2 linked regions of the Homo sapiens genome follow. The protein of the gene in region 1 purifies or fractionates together with the protein of each later gene. This does not show direct contact. Each region holds a gene or a part of one and is shown in the gene's direction. Other genes may lie near its edges.

Evidence for each region. Proteins that work in one complex are often made in the same cells at the same time.
Region 2: the proteins of KCNMB2 (region 1) and UBE3C purify together in Homo sapiens (affinity purification with mass spectrometry; one large-scale study listed by BioGRID and IntAct). This does not show direct contact.

What each region holds. Positions count from the first base shown.
Region 1 is NC_000003.12:178,825,601-178,830,655, forward strand, and holds part of KCNMB2 (calcium-activated potassium channel subunit beta-2), read left to right. Parts: coding exon 1-158; intron 159-2,577; coding exon 2,578-2,773; intron 2,774-5,055. UniProt on the Homo sapiens protein: Regulatory subunit of the calcium activated potassium KCNMA1 (maxiK) channel. Modulates the calcium sensitivity and gating kinetics of KCNMA1, thereby contributing to KCNMA1 channel diversity.
Region 2 is NC_000007.14:157,203,908-157,208,962, forward strand, and holds part of UBE3C (ubiquitin-protein ligase E3C), read left to right. Parts: intron 1-3,490; coding exon 3,491-3,648; intron 3,649-3,795; coding exon 3,796-4,028; intron 4,029-5,055. UniProt on the Homo sapiens protein: E3 ubiquitin-protein ligase that specifically catalyzes 'Lys-29'- and 'Lys-48'-linked polyubiquitin chains.

The sequences.
Region 1 (5,055 bases):
AAAATCAGGGACCATGACCTCCTGGACAAAAGGAAAACAGTCACAGCACTGAAGGCAGGAGAGGACCGAGCTATTCTCCTGGGACTGGCTATGATGGTGTGCTCCATCATGATGTATTTTCTGCTGGGAATCACACTCCTGCGCTCATACATGCAGAGGTAATACCACTGGGTGGGTGGGACCCTGCTGTTTGTCTCCTGCTCCATCCTCCCCCATCACTTAGGCAACCCTAAGGTCATCTTCCTCACCTTCTTTCCTGATAAGAACTTTGAGAAGTTCCTGGTAAATAATACTTTTCAATAATGTTATCTAATAATAATGATACATATAGCTCTATGTATAATCTGGATACCAGGTGTCAAAGACTTCTACTTCTTTAATTATCACAATTACTCTATAAGGTAAGTATAAATATACTCATTATAAAAACGGCAAAACTGAGGCTCAAGAGAGATATGATTTCCCCAGTGTCATACAGCTCTTGCTTGTGGCAGAGCTAAGATTCAAGCCCACATCTCGCTTATTCCAAAGTCACTGTTCCTGCCACTTCACACTTCTGTCCGTTCCCCACCCTCCTCCCTTTTCCACCCCAACCAACCCCTCCCTCACCTTCCACGTGAGTGGTTCTCAACTGTATATTCCAATTTCCCCAGAAACTCTTAAAAATGCTAATACCCAGCCCCCATCATCATCAACCCAGAAGGTCAGATTTAATTGGTCCGGAGTGGGACCCAGTCACCAGTATCTATTAAAGCTCCCCAGGTTGTTCTAATGGGCCTTCTAGGCTGAGAAACACTGCTATGCATCAACTTTTAAAAATAACAGATTTTGAATCTTTTCATTTCAATATTTGCTGTAGGTGTATTGAATGGATAGGGAGGCAAATAAATTGTGGGATAGCAAGTGTACTCCTGTCCTCAGTAAGCCATGTAGTAAATCCCACCAGCATCTCTAGCTAACTGTTGTCCATAAATTGGACACTCTAAACACAGGCAAGCCCAGCCCTGATGTATCGAATGAAGTCTCACAGCAGTTCAGCTTAAAGAAACAAGACCTTTTCAAATGAAAAATTGAGGTTTCAATCCAAAAGAAAATGAAACCATTTTGTGGCATTTGTTTCTCCATCTAAATTAATACTTTCATTTTAGAAGCAAAATCTAGCTGAAATACAGTAATTTGCTGAAATTAAGGCATCGTCTTTCACATTTGTGGCTGCTCTGCTCTGTTTCTCTGATGGCCTTCAGCTGTGCTCATTTTCTATGAAAGTGCTGATGCCTCAGGCCCCAAGTGGTCGTTGATTCCAAAATGCTTTCAGCTCTTCACATCTGGTTAGAACCATCAGAGACTTTTTCCTCAGTATATAAGCAAAATGTGACCACCCATGTTCCAGGAAAATACAGTTTGCCACACCAAGGGAGGGGATCAGGTCTAGTATCCTGCTTCTGGAATAAAACTTCACACATGCAAAGGGGTAGGAAGCTGTGGATGCCTGTCCAACAAAAGGAAAGCGTATTAATCTGCAAAGAAAACATGTTTTCCCATTGCTATGGTGATCAGCTTATACCCAAAACCAAACCATCAATTGCTGGTGTGTTAATTCCTAATTACAAATGTTAATCTTGATCATAAAATTAAAGGTATTTTTAAATGACCAGTTGACCAATGGGCAGCTGGAATCCTTCCAGGTGAGAGATAACAGGGCACCCTTATTCATCCATTAGTCTGCATAAAAGGGTTTCTTTTCCATTGTGTTTGTGGGGAGACAGCAAAACACAATAGAATGAGCCTGGGCCTTAGAGAATTACAAGATTGGATCACAATTTCCAACACTTACTGCCCATATGTCCTTGCATATGTCATGGGATTTCTCAGTTCACTCACTTTTAAAAAGAAATTACTACCCAACTTGCACAGCTGTTGAGAGAACAAAAGAAGGTAATGTATGTAAATTACCAATTAGGGTGAAAGGAATGTGCAGTAAGTGATTGCTCATGACATAATGAAAGGGTTGAGTTATCTTTTTTCCCTTATTAGAAAGACCTTAAGGCATTCTGTCACTGTCCTTCCATCTCTGTCAAGCTGGACCACATGACCCTCCACTCCTTTGCCATCTCTCCCCTCCTTCTCCCTCACACCTTCTGTGCCTACAAACTGGGCTGGGGAGGGAGCTGGGATGCAGAAAGTACAAAGTAAAACATACAGAGGTAGGGGCTGGAGCATGTCAAGAAGCTGCCTACAATGTAGAAATACAGGGTGAGGACAGGTGATGATTTTAAAGTATGCCTCATGTTACCAGTGAGTTCCATAAGGGAAAAAAGAACTTAAGTCAAGCACTGGAGAATACCATATCCAATGGAAGTCATTGAAAACGTTCTCACGTGTCCACGTTTGTCTATGTTATACGGTAGTTTGCTTAAAGCTGTTCTATTCGAAGGCCTAAACTTTACACAGATAGATCATATTAGAGATTTAGAAAAGATTTTTCAGCTTCAGGAGATGAGAAATAATTCCCTCGGACTATACCTTTCTCACTATTAGCTCTTGGGCCTGTGTTTACTCTCACCCCTTTCTCTGCAGCGTGTGGACCGAAGAGTCTCAATGCACCTTGCTGAATGCGTCCATCACGGAAACATTTAATTGCTCCTTCAGCTGTGGTCCAGACTGCTGGAAACTTTCTCAGTACCCCTGCCTCCAGGTGTACGTTAACCTGACTTCTTCCGGGGAAAAGCTCCTCCTCTACCACACAGAAGAGACAATAAAAATCAATCAGAAGGTAGGAACTTGGCGTACTGCATTTCAGTTACCCCACAGAGCTTCACACCAGGCTCTCTGCCTCTGAAGTTCCCCTTTGCCAGCATTTCAAAGGAAAATACTTCCAGGAAGCAGAGCCTGCCTCTTCCATTCAGAGAACTTGCTATGTGACTCTTGCCTAGAAAATATTTATTTTCTGTGCAAGTTGTGGACAAATCATTCCTACATTTGTGGTAGTGCAGATTTAGCTTTCACTTCCATTTGAAAGGGTAAATATTAATATATCTTTACACAAATAGACTGAGTCTTTCAAAGCAAGTATGCAACTTAGAGATGTACAAGACAAAACCATGTGTTTGTCCTGTACCTGGGAACCATCAGGTAAAGGTGTATTCTGTTTGTCCATGGTCAATGTCATTTAGTTCTGTGACCTCAGGGATATAACAACCTTTCTGATCCTCAGCTTCCTTTTCTCTAAAAAGTAACAAATGGCCACCTTGCAAGGTCCTTATGAAGATGAGTCCTGAGCATGTACAATGTTAAGCAGAGCATGCTACTTTCAACCCATGGTCACTGTGTGTGTGTGTGTGTGTGTGTGTGTGTGTGTGTGTGTGTGTGTGTGTTCTTCACATATGTTATATTCATAGAGGCTGAATTTTCCAGTCCACTAAGATATTCAAGTCCACATGGTAGATATTCAACGAATGTGTATTTTATTAAAGCTTTACATAAAATTTACATTTATAAGGTCTGGGATGACCAGGAAGGTGTCAGCAGAACCAACTTGCCATTACAATTTTAAGTTAAATATATTGAGTTTTGGATTTGTGGTAACAATTCGATATGCAGAATAATCTCATATGCCAAGACAACTCGATGCCACTCTTGGCTCTTATTACCAGGATAAACCCTTCTGACCTCTAATCTTTCTTGTAAAAGCTTTTCTTTTCATTAAATTGTCAGCACTTAAATGATATAACTTATAGTTATTGAAAAAAATGCAGTAGATTCAAGGTTCAATACTAGCACATAGAGAGTGAATGGGATTTGTTTCTGATAAACCCACCTTGAACTTTTGTTACAATAACTTAAAGGAATTCTTGCAAATATCTCTGAGGACTCAACATAATAAATATTTCAGAGAATGTTGTTTGAAAATGCTGGCTCTGATTTTCTTTCATTTGTAGTAGCCACAAATAATACCAGTCCCAGCGCTGTGCTGCAGTATGTAAAGCCTAGCTCTCTCACAAAGTGCTTGTCTTTCAAGATCTTCCCTTAAGTCAGATCTTAAAATCAAAGCTGACCAGTAATGACAAATGCCTATAAAACTCTTAAACCTGAATAGGCATCAAAAAGTGGGACATATTTTCATTTCCTCATTTTGACAATTTATCACTACAGCCCTGTGAATGCATTATTTAGGCTATAAACGGAGAGGGAAGCTACCAATAAATGTCCCAGATATGTATTCAGGACTGGTACCTTATTTGCTCTCAGCATAATACTAGGTCATCATTTGTTTTATTGGCCCCACTATCTTGTTTTTTAAAGTAAATTATAACATACAGAACTGTGCATGAAATGAAAAAGTACAGCTCAAGTATGACAAACAGATTCGTAACCACCGTGTAACCACCTTAAGGGTAAAGAAATACAACATTTTCTGTACCCCAAAAACACCCTACATGCCCCCTCTCAATAACTACAGGCTCTGCCTCCACCAAAGACAACTATCCTGACTGTTTATGGCAATTACTTTCTTACTTTCCTTTGTACTTTTATCACCTAAGGATATATCCTTAAACATATATATTTTGTTAATAGTTTTGCCTCATTTTTAAGCATTATATAAATGGAATCACATAGAATACTTTCCTTTCTGTCTGGTTTTCTTCACATAGCGTTATGTTTGTTAGATTTATTCCATTTGGTTACAGTTCATTCATTTTCATTACTGTATCATATTCCATTGTATGAGTATGTCTGTTTATTTATTCATTCTACTGCTGATGGACATTTTGAATTGTCTATAGTTTGGGACTACTACAAGTAATTCTACCATGAATATTCTCATATATGTCTCTGGTGCACAAGCACACACACTTCCATCGGGTATAAACCTGGGAATGGAATATTTAAATCATAGAGTATCCATATCTTAAAGTTAAGTAGATAATGCCAAGTAGTTTTCCAAAATGTATATGCAAATATACATTCTCACCAACCCTATGGGTATGAGAGTTCTTACTGCTCCAAATCTTTGCCAACATTTGGTAATATCTGTAATTTTAATTTAGCTAATGT
Region 2 (5,055 bases), on another chromosome or scaffold:
ACAGCTTAGCCTAGCCTACCTAAAACGTGCTCAAAATATGTGCATTAGCCTACAGCTAGGCAAAATCATCAAACACTAGGCCAATTTTATAATAAAGTGTTGAATGTCCATGTAATTTATTGAATATTGTACTGAAAGCGTAAAAACAGAATGGTTTATGGATACTCGAAGTATGGTTTCTACTGAATGGGAATCACCTTTGACCATCTTGAAGTTGCAAAATCCTAAACTGAACCATTGTAAGTCAGGCACCATCTGTAAATGTCTCATATTTCCTACTGGGAATAAAGTTTAAAATGAAATAACTGATTTTCTGAAACTGGCACTCAATTTAAGTCAAAAATAGTTTAACAGTAAGGCTTGCATTGCTAGGACTTACAGCTTTAGTGGGCAGAAGTATCATCAGGGGAGCGTGTTAAAATGCATATTCTCCTGAGACGAGATTGCGCCATTGCACTCCAGCCTGGGTAACAAGAGGGAAACTTTGTTTCAAAAAAAAAAAAAAAAAAAATTTCAGCTTCTCTGTTCCTGCCCTAAGACTTGGGTTAGAAACCCTGGAGACTGCAACCTCACAAGCTTATCAGGTAATCGAGGTACAGATGGTTTGGGGGCCAACCGAGAAGCACTATTCTTCACCCCAGTCTAGCAGACCACATTTAAACAATCTCCAGATGGATAGTGAATTTTGACACATCAGACATTTTGCAAATAACATCTTTATTCATTTACCTCATTTTCAGTACTTGCTATTGAAATCAGCCAGTTTAGTTTCCTTCTTCTTGAAGATGAGGGAACCCATAGCCAGCTGGTACTGTTTTCCATTAGGCATCCCTTGACTACAACATAACATAGAGATGCTTTGCCCAGATGTCTTCAGTGTGGGCAGTAGGTGCTGGTGTTGGCTGTTTGATAAATAATCTCAAAACAGTCTACAGTAGTATTCTGAAAACCTGTTAAAGCAAGAATCCGTTCTTAAAAGCTCTTTGCAAGGGTGGGGGACATTGGACGAGGAGGAGGAGTGGTTCCCACAGGCACGCAATTTGAAAACCCTTGTTCTCAAGATCTAGACAGAGGTTAGGGATTGCCTCGGGTCTCACTGATGGTCAGTAATTCACCTAGCTCCCCTGAGTTATGTGTGAATCAGTGTCTTTTCCATTACAGTAAGTTGCAGACTTTATTTGCACATAAGTCTTTGAGACTGACCTGTTTTCAGAGGAATATTTGAGTCAGTGTTTATAGCAGAAAGAATGGTCAGCAGAGAACTAAGAGACCTGTGTCTCGTTTGTGCCCTGTCTGCAGGGCAGCATTGGCACATATCCTTGCCAATCCCAGTTTTTGTCATTAAAGTAAAAATGATGCATTCCTTTTGCTTGTTTCACAGGGGGTTTGAAGAGGACAAATAAGTTTTTGTTGGTTAATTACCCTGTCCCTTTTTTTTTTGGACCCAATATAAGAATTTTATGCATCCTGCAATATGTGTGCATAACTGATGATGTGTTGGTGGTGATGATTCTTGTCAGGGATAACAGTACAAGTACAAGGATTCTTGTCGGGGATAACAGTGGAAAGCAGGCTCATCAAGACGCAGGAGTGGGCTCCAGCTGTCATAGGCAGGGCTGTTGAAAGAAGCCACCCCTGTCCAGTTAAGGCAGCCCTGTGCCTTTTTTATCCTCCATATAAACAACCTTTTTGTGTCATCCTGGCTTTGGCAATGAGGTAGGACAATTGTGCTTTGTCCCTTTTTGAATGTCCCACAATGTTTAAATTTTGGAAGAATGGCATTCATTCATTGATGAATCTGTTCAGCATAGTGCTAAATGCAGAGTATCACAACTGCAAACATGGATCATGTATGCTCAGGTTGTGTAGCATGTGGACATAGTGTATCTTCTCTGTGGGAACACAGTTTCAGGTGCACATATGGGTTCCTTTTCTCAAAGCGGTTGATGATGGCAGTGCCCTCCCCTGAACCATGCACCATGGAGACTCAGAAGCTCCAGGTGGCTCAGCCAAGCTCCTTACGGCCCCGCTAATTAGAACAAGTGGCCTTACCTTCTGCTTTGCTTTCATACATGATTTGTAGATCCTGACTCCTGGTTACATCTCATCTAATATATACCTGTAGTTTTGTGGAAATGGATATTTGGGGAGATAAGAGAGTGATCTTGCTCACAGTGTCTGTTAACCTGTGATTGATTTGACTTGGTAGAGGGGACCATGGACTTTATAGAAAGAGCTTGCAGGTGAGCCTATTAGCTAAAAGTTCCATAAGACAAGGAACCAGACTTAAAAACGAGAGAAAAGGAAGAAGTTCTAGGTGAAATAAGTCAATTTAATATATCGTAGCTCTTTTTTATTTATTTATTTTTTTTGGAAACGGAGTCTCGCCCTGTTGCCCAGGCTGGAGTGCAATGGCACGATCTCGGCTCACTGCAACCTCCGCTGCTCGGGTTCAAGTGATTCCCCTGCCTCAGCCTCCCAAGTAGCTGGGATTACAGGCACGTGCCACCACACCCAGCTAATTTTTTGTATCTTTAGTAGAGATGGGGTTTCACCATGTTGGCCAGGCTGGTCTCGAACTCTTGACCTTGTGATCCACCCACCTCGGCCTCCCAGAGTGCTGGGATTACAGGCGTGAGCCACCATACCCAGCCTTTTTTCTTTTCTTTTTTTTTTTCCTTAATATTTTAAACTTCTTTGAAACAGAGTCTGGCTCTGTTCCCCAGGCTGGAGTGCAGTGGCGCAATCTCAGCTCATGGCAACCTCTGCCTCCTGGGCTCAAGCCATTCTCCTGCCTCAGCCTCCTATGTAACTAGGAAGGACTACAGGCACCTATCACCACACCTGGCTAATTAATTTAATATATCATAGCTCTTGATGGGTGAAAGGCTGCTGAGTAAAGACCACCTTAGCTGCTGTGAAAGCAGGAGCAGGATGGGAGCTGGTGAATAAAGTGGACAGTGGGAGCAAGGCCACCATAGAGAACTGGAAACTTTGTTTCTTGAGGTTCCAGTTTGGCTTCAATATTGAATAGCTTTCAACGTTACCAAAAGTTAAGTCGCTGGATAAATTTTTCCTGAGACCAGAATGATTTGCCTTTATTAAATATGTTGAGTAGAAGGGAAGGGGGATGGTTTCCTCATAAGAGTAAAGTACATGTGTGTCTTGAATAGTGGCCTTATTAGAGCTCTTCTTAGGGCCTTAGTCTGGGAACGACTGGCTTACTCTTAGTAACTTCATTATCTAGTTGGTACAGGTAGCAGAAACCTTAGTGAAGATTAATGGGTTGGTATGCTATTTTTTGTATTAATCTATGCTGTTTATTAACCTGCATTGCCATGGTGACTTTACCTTGCCTTTAAATAGTTTAATTCCTAATGCAAATGTTACTTTCCCTGATTATATTTGTTTGATGTTATGTTTTAATTAGTTCCCAAACTAAGACTAATTTTAAAGTGACTGGTTTTTTTCTTCTTTTCTTTAATTCAAGGTCTATGGTACCGTTGCTTCAGGTGATATCCAGGGGTTCTCCTATGTCTTTTGAAGATTCTAGTCGAATCATCCCACTCTTTTATCTTTTTAGCTCCTTGTTTAGTCATTCACTAATTTCCATACATGATAACGAATTCTTCGGTGATCCCATAGAAGGTAAGGATTTTGAGAAACCAGTTTGCTGCTGGCCACTTGGCCCATCAGTTTTCATAGACAGTAGAAAAGTTTTAAGCTTTTTAAGTCTTTCAGTGTGTGTTAAAAGATGGAAAAAGAAACAATAGAAAACTGGATTGTGTTTTTTAGTTGTAGGTCAAAGACAATCATCAATGATGCCTTTTACTTTAGAAGAGCTGATAATGTTGTCTCGATGCCTTCGAGATGCATGCCTGGGGATCATCAAGTTGGCTTATCCAGAAACCAAGCCAGAAGTTCGAGAAGAATATATTACAGCATTTCAGAGTATTGGAGTTACTACTAGCTCTGAAATGCAACAATGCATACAGATGGAACAGAAAAGATGGATTCAGTTATTTAAGGTATAGAGTATATGTATTTTTTTGTTTACTGACATTGAAAAATGTACAAACTTTTGTCTTGACTCGTTGCAGAGGAATAAAAATGCAGGTTTGTTTCAGACATGTTTTAATTTGCAAGACTTTTTTTTTTTTTTTTTTTTTTTTTTTTTTTTTTTTTGATACATGGACTTGATGTGTCTCCCAGGCTGGAGTGCAATGACACCATCATACTCCACTGCAGCCTTGAACTCCTGGGATCAAGCAATCCTCTCACCTCAGCCTCCTGAGTAGCTGGGGCTACTGGCACATGCCACCACACCCAGCTAATTTATTAGTTTTTTTGTAGAGACAGAGTCTCACTGTGTTACCCAGGCTGGTCTCAAATTCCTGGCCTCATGGATTCCTCCTGCTTCTGCCTCCCATAGTGCTGGGATTATAGGCGTGAGCCACTGCAGCTGGCCTATATACCTTTTTAATTAAGAAAAGTAATTTTAGTACTTTTGATTAATTAAGGTAATTTAATTAACTAAAATTACTTTCATTTTAATTTACATTTGCCTCACTTAAAACCATGTTTTTAAACCTTGTTACATGCATCTTTTCTATGTGGCCCTAACTACTTAACTGTGACACGATGAAATATAAATACAGTTTTTAAAATGTTTTTATTTTTCACTAAATATTTCTTAGATTTTATTGTTTTTTCAAACCTTTCAAAAATTGATTAACAACGTAAAGTAGGTCATTAATTTTTAATGCTAGTTGTATATAAATTATTTTAACATATCTTCGTTCTTAACCAGAAAGTGAAGTTTTGAGTTACTGTGGCTGGAATGTTGGCAGGAAACCACCACCAGTGAGAATGTAACTGTTGGGATGGAAAAAAAGAAAAGGAAAAGGGTGCTTGACTTCCCATGAAATTTCTGCAGCAAACACATCTAGTCAGCTAAAATTGCTCATTAAAGGAGTGAGAGCAGAAGAAATGCATTTTCCAAATTGAATGCTAGATTTACAGTCCGTTTAATACCAGCGACCTCTCGCACACTAA